3 linked regions of the Homo sapiens genome follow. The protein of the gene in region 1 interacts with the protein of each later gene in a pairwise test. Each region holds a gene or a part of one and is shown in the gene's direction. Other genes may lie near its edges.

Evidence for each region. Proteins that work in one complex are often made in the same cells at the same time.
Region 2: the proteins of SLC18A1 (region 1) and MS4A1 interact in binary tests that used the Homo sapiens proteins (3 or more experiments, as listed by UniProt).
Region 3: the proteins of SLC18A1 (region 1) and CNIH1 interact in binary tests that used the Homo sapiens proteins (3 or more experiments, as listed by UniProt).

What each region holds. Positions count from the first base shown.
Region 1 is NC_000008.11:20,145,120-20,152,147, reverse strand, and holds part of SLC18A1 (chromaffin granule amine transporter), read left to right. Parts: intron 1-1,403; coding exon 1,404-1,482; intron 1,483-2,420; coding exon 2,421-2,472; intron 2,473-4,077; coding exon 4,078-4,141; intron 4,142-4,425; coding exon 4,426-4,545; intron 4,546-4,756; coding exon 4,757-4,890; intron 4,891-6,271; coding exon 6,272-6,385; 3' UTR 6,386-7,028.
Region 2 is NC_000011.10:60,458,846-60,465,873, forward strand, and holds part of MS4A1 (B-lymphocyte antigen CD20), read left to right. Parts: intron 1-2,226; 5' UTR 2,227-2,315; intron 2,316-3,339; 5' UTR 3,340-3,529; coding exon 3,530-3,688; intron 3,689-4,156; coding exon 4,157-4,276; intron 4,277-5,442; coding exon 5,443-5,499; intron 5,500-7,028. UniProt on the Homo sapiens protein: B-lymphocyte-specific membrane protein that plays a role in the regulation of cellular calcium influx necessary for the development, differentiation, and activation of B-lymphocytes.
Region 3 is NC_000014.9:54,431,348-54,438,375, reverse strand, and holds part of CNIH1 (protein cornichon homolog 1), read left to right. Parts: intron 1-1,938; coding exon 1,939-2,007; intron 2,008-6,155; coding exon 6,156-6,268; intron 6,269-7,028. UniProt on the Homo sapiens protein: Involved in the selective transport and maturation of TGF-alpha family proteins.

The sequences.
Region 1 (7,028 bases):
ATTAGGTGCTTTTTATTTTCTGCTTGAAGTGCTCTCTTTTGGTTATTAAGGTCTCAGTTTGAATGTCACTTCCCCAAAGAAGCCTTCCCCAACCCTGAAATCCCAGATAGCCCTTCTGAGTTGCTCTGCTATATCACCACATTAAATTTCATGCACATAACTCAACACTTTTCAAAATTATCTTTTTTGTGTATTTGTTTACTTGTTCATTGTATGTCTCCCTCCCCTGGAGTGTAAGCTAGCTGAGGGCTAGAATTTTGTTTGTCTTATTCACCGCTGTATTCCCAGCCCCCAGAATACCTGACACATGGTCAAAGTTTGTTAAAATGAATGAATGAATGAATGAATGAATGGAAGAGACTCAGACAGGTTAAGTAAATTGTCCAAAGTCACAGAGCTAACAAGTCATCAAGCCATGGTTTGAATGCAAAATTTGGAGCTTTGTGTGGCTCCAAAGCCCATGTTTCCTGAACACTTCCCTCTACTGTCACAAAAAGCCATGTGTTCAGGACTTCAATTTACAAAATACTTTTGCATGCATTACCTAATTTGCTCCACATTGTAACCCGGTATGATATAATCATAGCTTTGCTTTTTCCAGATGTGGAAACCAAGGCTCAGAAAGGTTTAGTAATTAATCCAAGATCCCTCTCAGAGAAATAGAAGGGCTGGTAAGTAGCAAGGCAGGAATTCACTTCCCAGGAATTATGTATGGGTATGTGGCACCCAACCACACCACCTCTGAAGCTCACATTCTCACGCTGATAATCAAGGGTATTTTATACATGAGAACGGCTCATCAGGGCCATTCATTAGGAATCTAAGTGGGGAGCTGGAAGCACATTAAATGTACTGAGGCTAGGCCAGGTGTGGGGGCTCACATCTGTAATCCCAGCACTTTGGGAGGCCAAGGCAGGCAGGATTTCATGACCAGCCTGGGCAACATGACGAGACTCCATCTCTACAAAACAAACAAACAAACAAACAAACAAAAAAAAAACAAAAAAAAACAACTAGGTGTGGTGGTGTTCATCTGTAATCCCAGCCACTTGGGAGGCTGAGCTGGGAGGATCACTTGATCCCAGGAGGTCGAGGCTGCAGTGGGCTGAGATTGTACCACTGCACTCCAGCCTGGGTGACAGAGTGAGGCCCTGTCTCAAAAAAAGAAAGAAAACAAAAAGAAAAGTACTGAGGCTAAACAAAGCCTTGCTCCTGAAGAAAGGAGAGGTGTGGGGGTCCTATGGCAACTACTGTGGGTTTGCACAAAGGTCCCCAGATCATAAAACAAAGTGGTTTGGGGATCTTGGAAGGTTACAGGGGTGGACTTCAGTGTCTTGTACGAGACAAGGCATTTTAGAGTAAATTGGACATGTCCTAAGGTAAGGATCTGTGTCCTTCCACAGGTCTAGCTTTCTTGCCTGCCAGTGTGTCCTACCTCATTGGCACCAACCTCTTTGGTGTGTTGGCCAACAAGATGGGTCGGTATGTAGCCTCGGGATCTGGGACGAACAGTAGAAATGTAAGATGGAAGAGCGCCCGTTCCTGATCTTGGAATGATGAACAGCTTCCATACGGTTGAAAGTTTAGGATGAGTACACACCGATAAAAACTTCCCACTGGGAGGATGGGCAGTGAGTGAGTGGTGAGGGTGGTATGGAGAATGGATTGTCCTGAGCTCTGAGCTGATTGTTATAGAAGAGGCAGTGGATACATGAGGGGCACCCCTTACTTTCCATCCATTTGCTGTCCAGTTGAGGAGATAAAATAACCACAACAGAGAACAGCTATGAAAAATGCAGTACTTTGGGAAAGTAGTTTTCAAATTATGTTCTGTGGAATCCTAAGGAGTTCTATAGAGGCACCCCAGAGGCCACTGAGGAGGAAGGGTTGGGGGCCAAGAGCTATGAGTCTCCATTCTGTCCCTTCACTACAATAAGGACAGCTTTAATTTTATCTTTGGAGTTTAGCATCAAGATTTTAGAAGCACTGCCATAGGACATCAGAGAAGGAAAGAAGTTTGGTACTTTCTGTGTTTTTTGAGACAGACCTCAAGGACCAAATAAAATAGGACAGGTAGGAGGCAGTCTGAGCTGGGCAACAGCATGAGTTAAGTTTGAGGGCTACTTCTAAGGAACAAGTGCCTCCTGAGTCAGCTGATTCCTCCTGTAAGGGAAGGAAGAGTGTGTCCCACGGCACCTCCTCTGCCTTTCTATAGAAAAAGGGATGGAGCCAGGGGAGACAAGGAAAGGGCAGGGAGAGAGCTCATTTGGGTACAAACTGGTCATGTAGGGATGCTGTCCTCAGGTCCTAAGGGGTTGCTGGGATTAGGGCTGGTGGGACAGGTCAGCATGGCGGTGATGGGGTACAGGTGGAGGGGAGCTCTCCCCTAGTGGTGTTTGATGATGGCTTTTTTCTTCCAGGTGGCTGTGTTCCCTAATCGGGATGCTGGTAGTAGGTACCAGCTTGCTCTGTGTAAGTATAAGAAGACCTGGGGGAGGGGAAGGAGAGAGAGAGCGAGAGACAGACAGACAGAGAGAGAGAGAGAGAGAGAGAGAGAGGGAGAGAGAGAGAGAGAAAGACACAGACATTTAAAGACTAATTTCCTTTAAGATGAGCAGAGATGGCTTGGCAAGGACTGTCAGAAAGACTGTTTCTGAATAGGCAGGAATTTAGCACGGGGGAAGAGGCCACCAGCTGCAGTGGCTTTCCTTTGAGGGGAAGTGGGAAAGGAGAGGAAGAGGGCTGTAGGGCAGCTGGAGCCGGAGGTCTGAGGCTGTACATGTGGGCATATGAAGTGATACATGTTGGTATCCATTTCTGGGGATGGCAAAATGGTGCGTTTTATGACTTCATTTACTCATCCCACCCTGACAGAGCCTCATAAATCCCCAGGGAACCATCATCTATGTCCCAGTCTCTGGCACCAGAGGCTTGATAGAAGAAGAAAGAAAGAAGGACTTTTCCATTTCCAAGAATCCCCCTCAAGTTCTCAAAGCCTTCATTTCCTCCTCTCCCCAGTGGGGATGAGAAACACACAAACCTCCTAGGCCTGAGGGAGAGAAGAACAGGGCTACAAGGCACTGTAAACTGTGCTCAAGACCAGCTGGAGGTCCTGAGCAGGAGCATGGGATCCGGGTTCCATGGCAGGTTTTGCCACTTTCTATGCATGTGACTTTGAGCAGGTTACTTCATCTCCGTGTGCTCAGCATCCTCATCTATGTAGAGAGGGTTCTGATGGTGTCCACAGGGTTGTCAAGGTAATCCAAATAAACCACAGTGTCTGGCACATGGTGAGCCCATAGTGAATCTCAGCCAATACTATTGATAATTTATAAACATTTCTTGAGGCATGAACCCTAAAAATTGTTATCAGCCAGCAGCATCTAAACGGTATGCTAAACCCTTAAGGGGTGAGTGTCCTGGGGTAGCAGGTTTGAATGGCAGGTACCCAGAGAGGGAGGTAAGGAACCTGAAAAAGAGGGAAGAAGGGGTTTTTGTTGGGGGATTGGGAGGGCAATGGGAATGAGTCTCACAAGCTTCCTGACAGGGGACCCAAGCCACACCACCTGCCCCCTCTAGCTTACAGCTAACTGGTTGTTGGGGCCTCTTCTCTATCTTCTTTTTCCAACAGCTACCAAGTTAGAAGTCTAAATGAAACCTTTCAGTGATGTCCATAATGGAAAACAGAGGCAACTTTATTCCATGAAGAATGAGACCAGGAGTGTATGTTTAGGTGAAGAGGGGTAGAGGAAGGGGAGAAAGTATCCATGGAACAGAGGAAGACCCTCGTTAGAGCATAATGGAGCCAAGTCTGAGGTCCAAACTTGATCTTGCCACTCATTAGATCTGTAACTCTGGATAGAGCAATAAATAAACACAACAGCGCTGGTCAAGTTTTCATATCCTTAAAATGGAGGTATAGATTCTTTTCCATGAGAAAGTCTGAGAGTGCAGGAGGATGATGTATGTGGCCAATAGTGCACTCTGAATAAATGCATTTCATGTGAAAACTCTTTGAACCTTGCTCCCACCTGACCCATCTGGAGTCCTGATGACTCTTCCTCCTTCCCCATGCAGGTTCCTCTGGCTCACAATATTTTTGGTCTCATTGGCCCCAATGCAGGGCTTGGCCTTGCCATAGGTAAGAAGTGCCCTCAAAGAAAACAATAAGCCCCTGCATGTTGGCTTTGGGTCTGATGCCTTTCCTCCCCCTTTTCTCATCAGAGGAGGTAGGTGCAGAGGCAGAAGGATCAGGAGGGCAGCTGGCAGGGTTGTGGAGAGATGAGCTCGTAATTCCCACCTGGAACAGGTGTTAGTCCGAGGCAGAAGACAGCAGACAAAGCAAATGGACTAAATGGAGGAGGAGAGGCGGGGTGGTACTAACTGTGGGTGGGGCTGACTGTGTCCTGTTTGCTCTGGCCACAGGCATGGTGGATTCTTCTATGATGCCCATCATGGGGCACCTGGTGGATCTACGCCACACCTCGGTGTATGGGAGTGTCTACGCCATCGCTGATGTGGCTTTTTGCATGGGCTTTGCTATAGGTATGTTGGCAGGACCTGGTGCCCCACTTTCCCCTGTCTACTCTTTACCAGCTGGAAGTGCAGCCAGGAAGCTATCCTCCTAGGGTTCTGGAGATCTTTGACGCTGAGACATCCTCTGGGTCACCCACTGCCCCTAGCATAGTGTCCTACGTGGAGGATGCTCCATATGGAGGCTCCATAGACACTTATGACTTTGATGTATCCCTCCCAGGTCCATCCACCGGTGGTGCCATTGTAAAGGCCATCGGTTTTCCCTGGCTCATGGTCATCACTGGGGTCATCAACATCGTCTATGCTCCACTCTGCTACTACCTGCGGAGCCCCCCGGCAAAGGAAGAGAAGCTTGTAAGGAGCACCGACTGTTAAAAGAGAAATTCACTTCTGTTTCTTTCCATCATCTCTCTCATTCCCTTTCATCCTGGGCTGTTATTTCCTCCCTCTATTGCTCTGTTGATACTCTCTCTGCTTTGCCATGTTTCCCAATCCCCTTTCATCTTCATATTTCTTTTGTGCACTTCCTTAATTTCCCTTCTCTAAGTAACCACTTCCCTCTTTCTGGGGCTATCAGGAAGGGTCTTCAGTAGAGAAGGGAAATGGGGGCAGAGGACCATCAAAGACATCCTGTAGTTACTGTTCTTAGCTTGCTAGTTACTAGCAAGATGTGAGTTACCAAGTTAACTCCCTCATAAGTGGGCAGAATTCCATTGGCACATCCGTTCATCCACTCATTCACTCTAGTGCAACATTATCCTTACCAGGTCACTTTTTTTTTTTTTTTTTGATGGAGTTTCACTCTTGTTGCCCAGGGTGGAGTGTAATAGTGTGATCTCGGCTCACCACAACCTCTGCCTCCCGGGTTCAAGAGATTCTCCTGCCTTGGCATCCCAAGTAGCTGGGATTACAGGCATGTACCACCATGTCTGGCTAATTTTTTGTATTTTTAGTAGAGATGGGGTTTATCCATGTTGGTCAGCAGGTCACGTTTTTAAAAGTACAAAAACCCCAGGGAAGAGATCCATACCATAGGATTTTCTTTAATAAAGCACTTTCCTCTTACTGCAGCACAAACATCCTGAGGGCCTGATGGGTTTGGGATACCGACAGAGGCTGCTCAAGGGAACAAAAGAAGACATGAAGGTGTGATAGGGAGTGGTGGTGATTCCATTTGGCTTCCTGCTGTAACTTTCACTACCACTGTTAAATTCAGTTAAAAGCAAATGAGATACTTGTCCTGACAAGGGTTGATATACTAGGTACCCCGGGAGGCTGGTGCATGTACATGCAGAGGGTCCTATGCATGTTTCTTGAGTACTTAGCAATGCCAGCCTTGGAAGAACTAGTGGGAGGACGGAATGAGGAGATTGGTAAAAAAAAGATGTGCGGTGGTTGGCCGGGCGCGGTGGCTCACGCCTGTAATCCCAGCACTTTAGGAGGCTGAGGCGGGCGCATCACGAGGTCAGGAGATCGAGACCATTCTGGCTAACATGGTGAAACCCCGTCTCTGCTAAAAATACAAAAAATTAGCCTGGCGTGGTGATGGGCGCCTGTAGTTCCAGCTACTCTGGAGGCTGAGGCAGGAGAACGGCATGAACCCGGGAGGCGGAGCTTGCAGTGAGCCGAGATTGCGCCACTGCACTCCAGCCTGGGCAACAGAGCGAGACTCCGTCTCAAAAAAAAAAAAATGATAATAATGTGCAGTGGCTTCTCTTCTTGCCTCTCTCTGCAGGCTATTCTGAGTCAGGACTGCCCCATGGAGACCCGGATGTATGCAACCCAGAAGCCCACGAAGGAATTTCCTCTGGGGGAGGACAGTGATGAGGAGCCTGACCATGAGGAGTAGCAGCAGAAGGTGCTCCTTGAATTCATGATGCCTCAGTGACCACCTCTTTCCCTGGGACCAGATCACCATGGCTGAGCCCACGGCTCAGTGGGCTTCACATACCTCTGCCTGGGAATCTTCTTTCCTCCCCTCCCATGGACACTGTCCCTGATACTCTTCTCACCTGTGTAACTTGTAGCTCTTCCTCTATGCCTTGGTGCCGCAGTGGCCCATCTTTTATGGGAAGACAGAGTGATGCACCTTCCCGCTGCTGTGAGGTTGATTAAACTTGAGCTGTGACGGGTTCTGCAAGGGGTGACTCATTGCATAGAGGTGGTAGTGAGTAATGTGCCCCTGAAACCAGTGGGGTGACTGACAAGCCTCTTTAATCTGTTGCCTGATTTTCTCTGGCATAGTCCCAACAGATCGGAAGAGTGTTACCCTCTTTTCCTCAACGTGTTCTTTCCCGGGTTTTCCCAGCCGAGTTGAGAAAATGTTCTCAGCATTGTCTTGCTGCCAAATGCCAGCTTGAAGAGTTTTGTTTTGTTTTTTTTCATTTATTTTTTTTTTTAATAAAGTGAGTGATTTTTCTGTGGCTAAATCTAGAGCTGCTAAAAGGGCTTTACCCTCAGTGAAAAGTGTCTTCTATTTTCATTATCTTTCA
Region 2 (7,028 bases), on another chromosome or scaffold:
TCCATAAGAAATAAAAAAACAGAGAAAGCACTCATGTGTTTCTTTATAAACTACTATTTTATACAAATATTTGTTTAAGGTTTGTAGAAGTATAGTTGCCACCATGAGATACCATTTTAACAGAGAAATATCACACACACACACACACAGCCCTCATGGTCATTATTGCCATTAGTTACAACAGGCATAGCCCAAGTAGAATTGGCTTACAAAAAAGTTTATCTCGCCAATAATACAGACACAGCTTTAATCAAGCAGTTGATGAATAAAATGAAATTAAAACAATGGCAGTCCAATCATCTCCTTCAGTTCAAACAATTGATGACCTTTGCATTTTAAGTTATCTTCACTAAAGTTACCCCTCTGGGGCGGAGTGTAGTGACTCCCAGCTCATTCCATACTTGCCATAGGACCTTGGGAAAAATAACCTCTCTCAACCTCCATTTCTTCATCTGCAGAAAGTAGTCAAAATGCCTACTTACGAAGGTGTTGAGTGAGTTGGCAATACCATATACAATATCTCTAGTATATAGTAGGTGCTCAGTAAACAACTATAATTATCTGGACTCACCTATGGTACAGCAGAAAAAGCATCAACATCAGAGCCATGGTGAGTGCCTTCTAGCTTGGCTCTGTTGCTAACTGTGAGGTCTTTACTAAGGCAAATTCTATACCCAGACTGCAGCTTCCTCATTTGTGAAATGAACAGAATGGTTTCTGAGGTTTGGACTAGCTCTAGAAATCCTACCTAGTGACCAGAATCAGTCCGCAAACTCTTTAGTGGGCTATATTAAAATATCTGTTTTTGTTAGAGGTCTTGTAGAGTGGCTTGTTGTACAAAGCAGATCCCCAGGACCATGTGGCATCTGGCTATCTAGGGCAGGGGCAAAATCAAGTGAGAAACAACCAAAGTTTCTTCTCTCTTTCCTCTAGCCCATGCGCCAGACAGATAATACTTTTCAACTGATTTATAGTCATTCACATAGTGCATATATTGGAAGGAGAAAAGAGGGGTCATAAGGGAAAGGCTGAATTCCTATTTCTCACAGGAGACAAAGCAGCCTGGTACCCTGGATGCCTAATTTGAGAGATCCAAGTCTTCATTTTAAATCTTTACAGGCTGGGCATGGTGGCTCACAGCTGTTATCCTAGCACTTTGGGAGGTGGAGGGGGGCAGATTGCTTGAGTCCAGGAGTTCAAGACCAGCCTGGGCAACATGGCAAGACCCCATCTCTAAAAAAAATATAAAAATTAGCTGAGTATGGTGGTGGTTGCCCGTGGTCCCAGCTACTCCAGTGGCTGAGGCAGAAGGATCACCTGAGCCCAGGAGGTAGAGGCTGCAGTGAGCTGTGATCATGACACTGCACTGCAGCCTGGGCGACAGAGCGAGGCCCTGTCATGAAAACAAACAAACAAACAAAAAATATTTACTAATTATGTAACTTGGCACAAGTAACCTAGCTTCTCCGTGCCCTTGTTTCCTCTTCTATAAAACACAGGTGATGATTCACCCCTTGCCTGTTCTATAAGGCTCAGATGAGATGCCATGTGTCAAATTTACTTCCAGCCCTAAAGTAGGTATAAATGTGACAGTAGTCAGCTGCCTGTTTTACAGCACACCTGCAGCTACTCAGCTCTGATTGACTTCAGTAAGATATACTTCAGGCTGTGGTCTAATGGCTGGGATGTGGCACCGGCTTCAGTAAGATATGTGACCTGGATAGACAGTCTTGATTTCCAAGACATCTTACATGACTTACAAGCAATAAAGACAAGAGCAAAGATGTGTCCCCAAAAGAGGGATTTTCAGATTCCAGGAAAGACCCAGTGGAGTCCGCATAAGTGGTTAACATGAACAAGTGAATGCTAAGGAAACCCAAGATGAAGATTGAACAGAATCTTAAAATGTCTGAGCTGGAAAGGGCCGTATTAATTGCCTTCTCACTTCAGAAATGAATAAATCATGAAAACTGATAAATAGCATTTACTACACTCTCCCTTTGTCCTAGGCACAATTACATATGTTAACTTATTTATGTCTTACATCTCAGAGAGGGGTACTGTTCTAACTTTACAGAAGGATAAAATCGAAACTAATGCTCAGCAAAGTACAAAGAACAAGAATAGCAACAAAAATAACTATTTATTCCAACATGGGTTCTTTGCATACATTTATTTCTTCAATAATATTTATTAAGAAGTAACTAAATCCAAAAATTATTTTAGATCCTGAACAAGAGAGAACAAAATCTCTACTTTGATGGAACTTCCATTCTGTGGGGAAGAGACTGACAATAAGCAATTAAATAAATAAGGTAATTTCCTACAGTGATCAATGCCGTAAAGCAATTAAGATAGGATTTTGTAAAAGACAGCAAATAGGAGTACATGTTATAGATTGAGGGTTCAAGGTAGGCTCCTCTAGGAGCTGACATTTGAGCTACACCTGAACAAAAAGACACTAGCCATGCACAGACCATGAGCCCAGTTAAGTGTTATAGCAGCCCACGAGATAAGAATTATTATTATTTCAATTTTACAGTTGAACCTGAGGCCCAGAGAATTTAAAGAACTTGCCCAACATCTCAGAACAAATGGAGGAATCACTATTGAAACCTAGGCAATCTGACTCAGGAGGCCACAGTCTTATATACTGCATTAGAAAGCCTTAGAGAGCCTTTTCTTTTTCTTTGAGACCGAGTCTCACTCTGTTACCCAGGCTGGAATGCAGTGGCATGATCTCAGCTCACTGCAACCTCTGCCTCCTGGGTTCAAGCAATTCTCCTGCCTTAGCCTCCCGAGTAGCTGGGATTACAGGTGCACACCAACATGCCTGGCTAATTTTTGTATTTGTAGTAGAGATGGGGTTTTGCCACGTTAGCCAGCCCGGTCTCAAACTCCTGACCTCAGGTGATCTGCCCATCTTGGCCTCCCAAAGTGCTTGGATTACAGGCATGAGCCACCGTGCCCGACCTAGAGAGCCTTCTTGATGTGACTTGCACAAGGTGGCAGAGTTAGAGACAGAGAGAGGCCTGGAATCGACCCCTCCTGCTTCTACAGATAGTCCTTACCATACTCTGCAATGTTGCCTCTGGCCCATCATAATGCACAAAGGCAGATAAGCAAAAGGACAAGGACAAGTCCATTGAAAATACATTTTTCAATATTAAAGCAAAAGAAAAGCATCCAGGAATAAGAAACAAAGAGGACATGCAGTCATATATGCAAGGTGTCCTCTACAAAGATAAAGAATGCCCCAAACCCAGTTGTCAAGATCACTGGCAGGGACTCCTGGGCCCACATGCTCTTCCTAAACAACCCCTCCATCTCCTTTCTCAGAACTCAGCAGTAGGCCTTGCCTCAGATCCAAGGTCACTCGGAAGAGGCCATGTCTACCCTCAATGACACTCATGGAGGAAATGCTGAGAGAAGCATTCAGATGCATGACACAAGGTAAGACTGCCAAAAATCTTGTTCTTGCTCTCCTCATTTTGTTATTTGTTTTATTTTTAGGAGTTTTGAGAGCAAAATGACAACACCCAGAAATTCAGTAAATGGGACTTTCCCGGCAGAGCCAATGAAAGGCCCTATTGCTATGCAATCTGGTCCAAAACCACTCTTCAGGAGGATGTCTTCACTGGTGGGCCCCACGCAAAGCTTCTTCATGAGGGAATCTAAGACTTTGGGGGTAAGTCAGTTGCCTTCCATCCCATGTCGTAGGGATTCTCTGGCTGACAGAAGCTGATGCGGTATAGGCCACATACAGAATTCAATCCAATTTGAAGAATTGGGATCCAACCTGATGTCTTCTTTATGTCTAACACAGTGGGCCAAATCAGGGGTGCATCAGAGAAGTTATCACTTAGATCACCTCTGGGTGATCTTATGTCACCTTTTGGTTTTGGGGCTTGTATATGCAGGGGTCCCCCATCCCAGTCCATTGCCAGAATCCCAGGCATACCTGCTCCCTGGAAATGCCCCATGTGGTTGAGGAAACAGATTCGAACAAGAAAAAGACAAAATTCTTGGCACCTCCACTGCTTCCTTTAGGCATTCCTCACAGCTCCAAGTCAGGAGCCAGAGCTTCCAACCTTGTCTTTGCCTGCTAGCAGTGATGATTTCAGCTCATCCACTGCTGCCTCTGTTCTCTCCCCAGGCTGTCCAGATTATGAATGGGCTCTTCCACATTGCCCTGGGGGGTCTTCTGATGATCCCAGCAGGGATCTATGCACCCATCTGTGTGACTGTGTGGTACCCTCTCTGGGGAGGCATTATGGTGAGTAAAAGAATAGCAGCCATTTGGGAAATGGTGCAGACAAAAATGTTAAAAGGCTCCACAGGGATATGCCAGATTATTTCTGTGTTGAGGGAAATATATGAGTAGGAAATATTATTGGGTTAAAGTAATTAAGAAGACAGGTTGACCAAATTGAGTATAAATCCCATGGTTGAGAGTCAGTGGTCCTGTTTCATGTGAATTCAGAGAAAGGGGCCCTGCATGGATCTCACAGGGACTGTCCAAAGCAAGAACTCTCCAAAGTCAGTTCTGGTGGGGAGGGTGGCCCTAGACATTTAGACTAGATAGCAAGATGTTTTGGAAAGCAAGAGGCAGCAGGAACATCCACTTCCATCTACCCCTTCTTGCTTACAATTCTGTTTGGTTACTATGGTACCTGGTGAAACCTGTCCCATCACAAGTCAGTCTCATTTTGCTTATCGACAGAGCAGCACTCTTTTGGCTGTTTTACGTACATGTTTTCCAAATCTGTAACCCTGTCTGGGTGTGGCACATAGGACAGTGATGTTTATTTCCCCGTGATACTTTTCATAGTTGCCACTATAAAAGATAAGTCCAGGATTAAAATTTTCCAAACAAGTAGAGATGGGTTAGAACAAGAGTTTCCTCCATTCTACAGCCTGAATGTGAGAAAAGGAAGATGAGCAATAGTCATCATCACTTCCTGTAACAGCCAATGTTTTCATGGAGTGCCTGTGCCATTCAGGTCAAGTATTTCCTTCTGCATCAGTTCACTCTTCAGAGGGCATCAGAGTCATTTATGTCACTGTGAACCCCAAAGGGCAGTTCCACAAGTTAAAAACAAAGAAAAACTAGAAATAAAACTTTTAAATTTATGGTATGAGTATTAATTGATGAGGAAATTTGAGTTCTGTCTCTTTGGTCTTACTATATTCCTAGTCACAGATCCCCAGATGATTGAGTAAAAGGCATGAATTTAGTGTCACTGAGCCTGAATAAAGGAGGAATATGACAGCTGAAAAATGAATACAACTGATAAAAATGGGTGGATGGTTGTGTGAAAGTTGCTGAAAGTGTAGGCTTCTTTCTGACCAGTTATCAATGTTAAAAAGTGATCTCCCTCTCTCCTCTATCTCCTGTCTTGCCCACCCCCTCTCCATCTCCCCCACCTCTCTTTTTTACAGTATATTATTTCCGGATCACTCCTGGCAGCAACGGAGAAAAACTCCAGGAAGTGTTTGGCAAGTAACCATATGTCCTTCTTTCCCACATGTCAGAGAAGTACCTATTTTTTTCGGTTAAAAACTGAGACCCTTAAAAAGCCAAGGTATCACAGCCTCTCAGCCCTAAAAAGCAAAGACCCTCCACAATGTTATTGTGATTTTATTTATGAAAAACTTAGAAGCGAGGTCTATCTGAAGTATGTTCATGGGAACAGAACTAAAAGCAGATCCATGAAAACCATACCTACAGTCTTAAGAACGTTAAATGCTGTGTGAAAATAATAGACCTTTCTGAAAGCCCTATCATTTCTCCCAGATCACCATTTAGGAAAATTATCTGATCAATGTCATGATTGATTCAAATTCTAGCTAAGCCATTTTTTGGCCGTAACATTGAACAAGTCAGTTTACCTCTATGTTCCTGAGTTTTCACCTAGAAAGGAAGGGTAACAGTCCTTGCTACCATGTGACGTCCAATGGAGATGAAAGGCAGTAGAGTGTGTGATGGTGCTTCACAGGCTATAAAGTACTACACTGTGGTCTTGCCCATAAAACCCCTAGGGACTCATCTAGATCCAGAGGAAACTGGCCTGCAGAGCTGCTGATGCTGTATGGATGAAAAGAGTTTAGCAGCAAGTTCGCTCCCAAAAAATTCCTCCCCCAACACTGTTACTAAACTGTGTCACTTTCATAATCAATGAGGGAATGGGTGGATTGAGATGGTTCCTGTCTTAAAGTGGCCTGACACACTCAGTTTGGGGGGAAAACTTTTTATGAACATCAAATTATTCTCTAGATACAGCCAGATTTACTGACTTGCCATGTGTAGGTCATAGAGCCAGGAATGAAATATGCGCAGCATAAAATAATAATCAATAATCCCATATCATTATGGTACTTGTTATTTATATTTTCCTGTTTCAACCTTTTATCATCCCTGCAAGGTAGAACATTCACACTGATATTTTCTTACCTATGCTACCCAAAGACATCAGCCCTAATTGTATTTTGGAAGATAGCTGACTGGGGCTGATTGCAACCTATGTCAGCAGGAATAGATGTTGTTACTGTTGTTGCTTCTGCTTTTTTTATTTCCATTTATTTGATAGTACAGATCTAGAGGGTTCTATCTGAACCTTCCCAACCTATACTTCATAATACCATCCCACTAAAGTGTGATACAAGAAACTTCTTCACTCTCTTCCCTCTACCTATTTATGAAGGCAGATAATAAACTGGATAATATTTATCTTCACTTATTCAACAAACATTTATTGAGTGCCTACTAGGATGGTGGCAGTGGCAGTGAAGGAAATGCAAGGATACAAGATATAGAATCAAGGGTTACTCTTAGAATTTTTGCTTTATAAAACAGATGGATGGTGAATGAGATAGGGAAGACTGAGAAAAGAACAGGATAGAGACATGATTTTATTTTATAGTGACAAAGAGGCTAAAAACAACTGAGAGAACTTCAGTATATTTAGTTGTAGTTGCTTTGTGAGTCAGGGCAGTTGCATTTGGAATTCCCTCCCAGATTATGTTTT
Region 3 (7,028 bases), on another chromosome or scaffold:
AAAATCATTAAGAATATTCTCAGAAGAGGTTCGAAAACCCTAGCCTATAGCACTCAAAGAGAAACCCATTCAACAACATAGTTAAAAAATCCCTGTGACCAGGCACAGTGGCTCATTCCTGTAATCCCAGCACTTTGGGAGGCCAAGGCAGGTGGATCACCTGAGCTCAGGAGTTTGAGACCAGCCTGGGCAACATGGTAAAATCCCATCTCTACAAAAACTACAAAAATTAGCCAGGCATGGTGGCATGCACCTGTAGTCCCAGCTACTCCGGAGGCTGAGGCAGGAGAATCATTTGAGCCGAGGAGGTGGAGGTTGCAGTGAGCCGAGATTGTGCCACTGCACTCCAGCCTGGGTGACAGAGTAAGACCCTGTCTCAAGAAAAAAAAAAAAAAAACCCTTGAAGTCACCTGGAGAAAATGTCCAATTAAATGTCAGTTTTAAAGACAAGTTTTGTATTCTGTTAAGTTGGATCTTGTTATAGACAAGTACTTATGATTATCATCCTTGTCTTGAGCTTTATTACTAAAATGCATTGGGGTTATATACCACGGCTGACGTCAAGTAGCAGACTAATAACGTCCATAAGTAATCAGAAATTAGTATTTTCTAATTACACATGTATGTTTTTAACATTTGTGTTAGGTGTCATTAGCCAAGGGAAATCCCCCTGGTGAGTTCTGCATTTTTTTTTTTTAATCCCTAGTGCTATTTTTTTCACCCCCTCCTTCCAGTTAATATTTATTGAACACTTAACTATGTGCCAGGCACTATTTTATATTTTAGGCCCTGGGACATAATAGTAAATACAACAATCTTTGTTCTTTCAGAGATTACATTCTAATGTTTTATTATTTTCCTTCTATTGTTGTTTGGTTGGAGTTTTTATTAGGGCAGGTGGGTGAATTTTATGGAACTCTAGAAATTAAAAAAACCGTCTTTTTATGAATCTAAATTTTAACAGGGAAATAAACAGTCATGTTAAAAGATGGAAATATGTAACTTTACTGATTACTGATAATATTGAGCAACACTTTCACATATAAAGATACTATTCCTAACTCATTAAGGGAAGGGTAGCTTAGTTTGTGTGTCCCTGGGGTGAGTAGTGTTAGCAACTAAAATGGCTCCCCCATCAACTTGCTGCCTTTGTTTTCTTTCTTTGTCACCTGAAATGATGCCACAAAGTGGTGCAGAGTCCCTATTTTGACTCTTAATGTACATTCTAGTGACCCTTGAGGTTGAAGCCACATTCCTCCAGAGTGTGGACAAAAGCATCCTTACAAATGTATGTGTTTGGGCACCAATGGGAACACATTGAAGAGTTCGAATCCATCTCTAGTGTCCCACTGAGCACTGTGCCAAGGGAGGAGGAGCATGCACAGATAAATAAAAATGGTCCTTCTCCCTGAGAGTGTAGAGGGGCAGACAGACCTGTGTGTAAATACCACACTCCAGGGTGAGAAAAGCCATATCGATGGCATTATAGAGTCCCATGCTGTGTGGAGATGTGGGCAATTACTTCTGCCCAAAGGAGTTAGGAAAGCCTGCAGAAAGAAGTTGACCTAGGAAGGTTTGTTTTTTTTTTAGGATAAAGAGGAATTTGGATAAACAGTTGAAATTATTTTTCTACTCAGAAGATTATTTCGAGTAGAGATAAGTTGAAATAACTTGAGCAGAGGCATTGACGAAATTGAAAATTGAAGGTATTTATTACAGTAATACCAAATTTTAGTGATACTGAGATAAGAGTGTTTTCACTTTAAATCGCATTCTGGTTCTTTTTGTCATATATGAGTTTACTGTAAATTGGTATTTGGGATCTTGGTGTACTTTTGTTCTTGTTTTATTAACTTTAATAATTATTTGAAGATGGGGCAGGTTTGTTGCTGCTTTTAATTAAAGTGAGTGGTCCTAACTGTTTTAATTTTATTTTAGATTATAGCATTTGATGAGCTGAAGACTGATTACAAGAATCCTATAGACCAGTGTAATACCCTGAATCCCGTAAGTTATAATATAGGATTTATCTTTAGATTTTAAAAATATGTTTGTTTTTAACTTGAAGTAATTTGAAAATGGCCAGTATTCTGAGTAGCATAATATATTTGTACTTTTTGAAGTAGGCAGAATTTAAAAAATCTTCTTTTTCCTGTCGTGCTTGACTATTCTATTATTAATCTGCTGGTGATCTTGTCAGCTGTCATACTAACATTCTTCCAATCTGCTTTTTACATTGTCGGCCAAAGACAGTTGAAAAGGTCAAAAAGATTAAAAGAGTCAAAATTGCATTAAAGGTGTGTACTGCTTTTTAGTTAAATGTTTTAATGCTATATTCATTTCATGGGGAGGGTTAGGGCATTTGTATTTGTAACGTTTTGTTCAGTGTGCTCGTTCATATGCCTGTTGAGGTTTATGATTTCATGAAATTTCATATTTTATGCAAATATATGCTTGCTGGCCCAGTCAAGTAGGGAAAGCTGTTAAATGCGTATGCGTTTTTTTATGTTATAGCCATAGGCACTTCTATGTGAAATTATTTGGTGTAGTACTTGAAAGTTGGTTAACATAAAATGACTAATAGATGGTGAGATGATTCTCGGGTTGTGACTTATTGTGAGGTAGTATGTGAGTGAAATCTTTAGTATGGACTTATCTGCCATATCTAGTTTTATCTTTGGTTTGCATATTCTGGAATAAATGAGTCATTCTTTCAGCTGATGTTTATTCAGAGCCTGTTAGGTGGATAGCTCTGTTCTGGGGGCTCTGGGATCTCGCAGCAATGCCATTCTTTGGACTTAGGGTGCCATAATTTTGTAGATAACAATTTGTATACAAATGTCTATGTGGTTATTTCTAGTGTGTATCTACTTTCTGTTTCTAAAACAGGCCTGAATTACACTGAGTTCTGAGCCATCATGAATTTAGTGATAATGTAGCTCCATTGTGCTTAGGGTTTTTGAAAAAATATATATGTATGTATTTTTAAATTTTCTTTTGAGATGGGGGTGTCTCTATATTGCCCAGGCTCTTATCAAACTCCTGGGTCAAGTGATCGTCCTGCCTCAATCTCCTGGGTAGCTGGGATTACAGGCACACACCAGGGTACCCAGTTTGTTTTTTTGTATTTTTGCCTGCATTTAGGAAGATACTCTTTTAGCCTGTGTATTTGATTTTGCCTGACTGGTCAGTAATTGAAAGGTTGGTTGTTTATAAGAAAGCAGTGGGTATGTCTTCAAGAAATAAAATACAGTAATTCAGCTTTAAAAATTACTTAACGAAGGGGAGAGTTTGTGTAGATTTTAATTGTCTAGCATACTAGTGTACTAGCACTAGGTGCTAGAGGGATTTTATTTGGAAAAGCATCTAGAAAGTTAGTTTGGTACTTTATTATTGTTTCCCAGATAAATGTGGATGGTGGAAGAGATTTCTAGTTTGTCTTTAGAGAACTGTTACAGTAAGAGTTGATGTAGGTACAATTAAAAGTATTAACTTATTAGCTGTTTCTTTGCTCTTATGAAACAAGACATAAGAAGATGAATTTGCCTTCTCTTGGAAAGCATTAAGTGTTAATTTTAAAACATCTTAACCTAAGTAGTTGAAGTTGTTACCAGGAAATGAAGAAACTGAAATTTCCCCTTTTGATAGCTGTTTATTAATAGTATTCTGTGCTGTTTGTCTTTTCATTACTTCAATAACCAAATGATGATGAAGGTAAAAATATTTGAAATCAGATGAGGATTTTCCTGGGTGCTAGGCTCTGTGGTAAGCACTTTGCCTGAATTTTTAAATTTAATTCTCATGACAATCCTGAGGTAGGTAAATTGTTATCTCATGAATAGGAGAGTAAACTGAAGCTTTGCCAGGTTAAAGCACTTTGCCGAATGTTATACAGCTAAGATAGAGTCAGAACTTGAACTCAAGACAGCCTAATTTTTGAAGCTCAAGTTCTTGTATTTTCCTAATGTATTGTAAATTTAGGAGGGACAGGTTTCATTTTAACAGGTAATGTGCGATTCCTGGCTTTTCTTAACGGAAAGAAATTCTCACTGAGAAGAGACATGTGCTTGGGACATCCTAATGCTGCAGGAGGTTGAAGGACGTTTTTATAGCAGCACAGGTTGCCTTTTGGATAGGGTGCCAATAATTGGCTGAATAGCAGTGCATCTGACAGTTTTCCCTATTTAAATTTGTTTTGACAGTTCTGCCAAAGTATGGGGGAAGACAAATATCACTATTTTTTAAATTGTGAACTTTAACAAGAGAATATTATATTTTGCATGTTTAAATGTTATCATTTCAGCCATATTTGCTTGAGGTTTTTTTTCTGGATACTAGTTTCTGTTTGAACCTTGGTTCCTAAATTGAATAATTTTTGTGTCTCTTATGGGGAAATTTTGTCATTAAAGAATGCTCGGAGAGGGTTGGTTTTTAAGAGAGATGGGTAGTAAATGTTTCTGGACTCCTTTTGAGGAGAAGGGAGGGAATGGCATTGTTTCATATTAGAACTGGTAGAGTTGTAGATTATCTTTATTAACACTTTTATTAAAGTAATATTAAGAGCGGGAGGGGTTCATGCTTTCAAAATCATTCTTTCCATACTTCATTCTGTAAGTGTAGGATAAAACCTTGCATGAGGATTTGTTTGTTAGGTATCAGATGGCTTTTTAGGGCTGAAATAGGCTTATATTTTAAAGACAACGTCTGTAATTTAAACAAGTATTATAAAAGCAACTCTAGTGGAATTCTTAATAAAATGTATATTTTTCTTGGTTTGTTCTGGTTATAGTCCTTGAGTTTCAGAGTCCTATGGCCCTTTTCTTGTTTAGAGAACTTTGATCTTAAATAGATGCTGGCTTAAATGTTATTTAGAAGTTTAGGTACATATGCCGAGTTTATCCTTTGTTATTGTATTGCTTAAGTTTGTAGAAAATATTTGGTTAGTGGTGTAGATGAGTTGTTTACCTGGATTTTTTTTAAAAATAGTATTCATTAGAAAGTCCCCTCTACAGCTTTAAATTGGAAAGAGTAATTTGGGAGTATGAGAAAATGGGTCTGAGTATGTAGTGTGATTACAATATCTACAGCCATGGTTTCCCCTCAGGAGTGATCTGATGATGATAAGTATTCATATGATTTCCATTTGGTATGAAGTAAACATTTGAGAAACTGGCTTTGTAGCTGTGACTTACAGGAGATACTTCGGCTGAAACTTGCAATGAGAGGTTTTGGTATTTTTATTTAACAAAGTCCTCAGGCTGAAATCTTTAGGATGAGAAAGATAATTTAACATAAAGCATTAACTCCTGGTCATTTTATAAAAAGCATTTTGCTCGAATTAATTTTTCTTCACTTAATATTACCTAGTACCAAAAGGTTTATTTTGTTTTTGGGTTCTGAGCTTCTACTGGTCTTCTGTTGTGTCTGTAGCATTTTGTTGGCAAGCAGGGGTAAAGAAACGGAAAGGCCACCTAAGAATGAGAACTTGGGAACCTGGAAAATCTTAATTTCATGGTTAAGAACTCAGTCTTTTCCCTCCTACATTGCAGAAAGCGAATCTTTTACATTTGCGCATATTAGTGTTCTTCCCCTCACTGTGCTGAGATTATTGGCTGATTGGCTTTCCATTAAAAAATTACTTCTGTGGGAATGCAATGTGGTTTGCTAAATATTGTGTATGTAGCATTTCTGGTTTTTGTTAAAGGCTTAAAAACACTGATATGTAAAATTCCAAAGGGGAGTTTTGTTTCTGTGGAATTTTTAATATGTTGCATGTGATCAGATATCTCATTTTTGTACTTCTATCATTGTTGAATGGTGAAAAGAAAAAGTATTCTAGTTGACTAGCATATTGTTTAACAATCTGGGTGGTAACTTTATATAATTTGATCTGTTTCTCTAAGGATTTGAGCTTTGAATTTTAAGTCATGTATCTTACTATGTTAGTGCAAGCTATATGCTCTGGTCAGTTTGCCTGTAATCCTACTTTTGGTAAAAAGTTAAACATGGAAATAAAACTCAGTAGCATCTTTTATTTCTGAGTCTAAGAAAACAGTGATTTTTCATTATGGAAACTTGGTTGCCACCTGCTTTCCAGATTAGTAGTTGACTTAATGCTGAGGCATTTTGATAACTGGCTTGTGTTTTCCTTCCAGCTTGTACTCCCAGAGTACCTCATCCACGCTTTCTTCTGTGTCATGTTTCTTTGTGCAGCAGAGTGGCTTACACTGGGTCTCAATATGCCCCTCTTGGCATATCATATTTGGAGGTAATATTTAGATACACTTTTAATATTTTTTTAAATTAAAACTTAAATATACTGTGGTTGATATGGTTATCTTACATGCTAGTCACCTACATAAAAATGGAAGATCAGTTGGCATTTATTTTTTTAAAAATCAAGTGGGTGAACAAAAACTATTTCAATACCTCATATAGAGCTTACTTTATTTTTAAAGGAATTTTTTTAAAAAGTGAAGTATAACTTAGTGTTGTGCACAAGTCTGAAGTATATAGCTCAATGAATTTTTACATACGTATACACCTGTTAAACTACCACCCAGATCAAGATACACAACAGTTGTAGCCTCCAGAGCATTCACTTATGCCCCATCTTAAGTCAGTTACCCTCCACACCTCCCAAGACCACTGACCTCTATCAACTTAGATTAGCTTTGCTTGTCCTTGAACTTCAGGTAAGTCAAAATGTACAGTATGTGTCTAATTTCTTTCTGTGTTTATGACTAATTTTGGTTATTTGTAAAAGATAATATTTTATAACTTCCATAGTAATATCTGCCGTATATAGAGTTAGAAGTTTTTGTTTTAAATAGGCATGTCAAAACCTTATTGCCCTTGATTTTAGGAGACATATACTGAAGAAGTATTTAGAAGTAAAGTGTTATCAGGTCTACAATGGACTTTGAAATGATTCAGAAAAAAATGTACTTGGCCGGGCGCAGTGGCTCACGCCTGTAATCCCAGCACTTTGGGAGGCCGAAGTGGGTGGATCACAAGGTCAGGAGTTC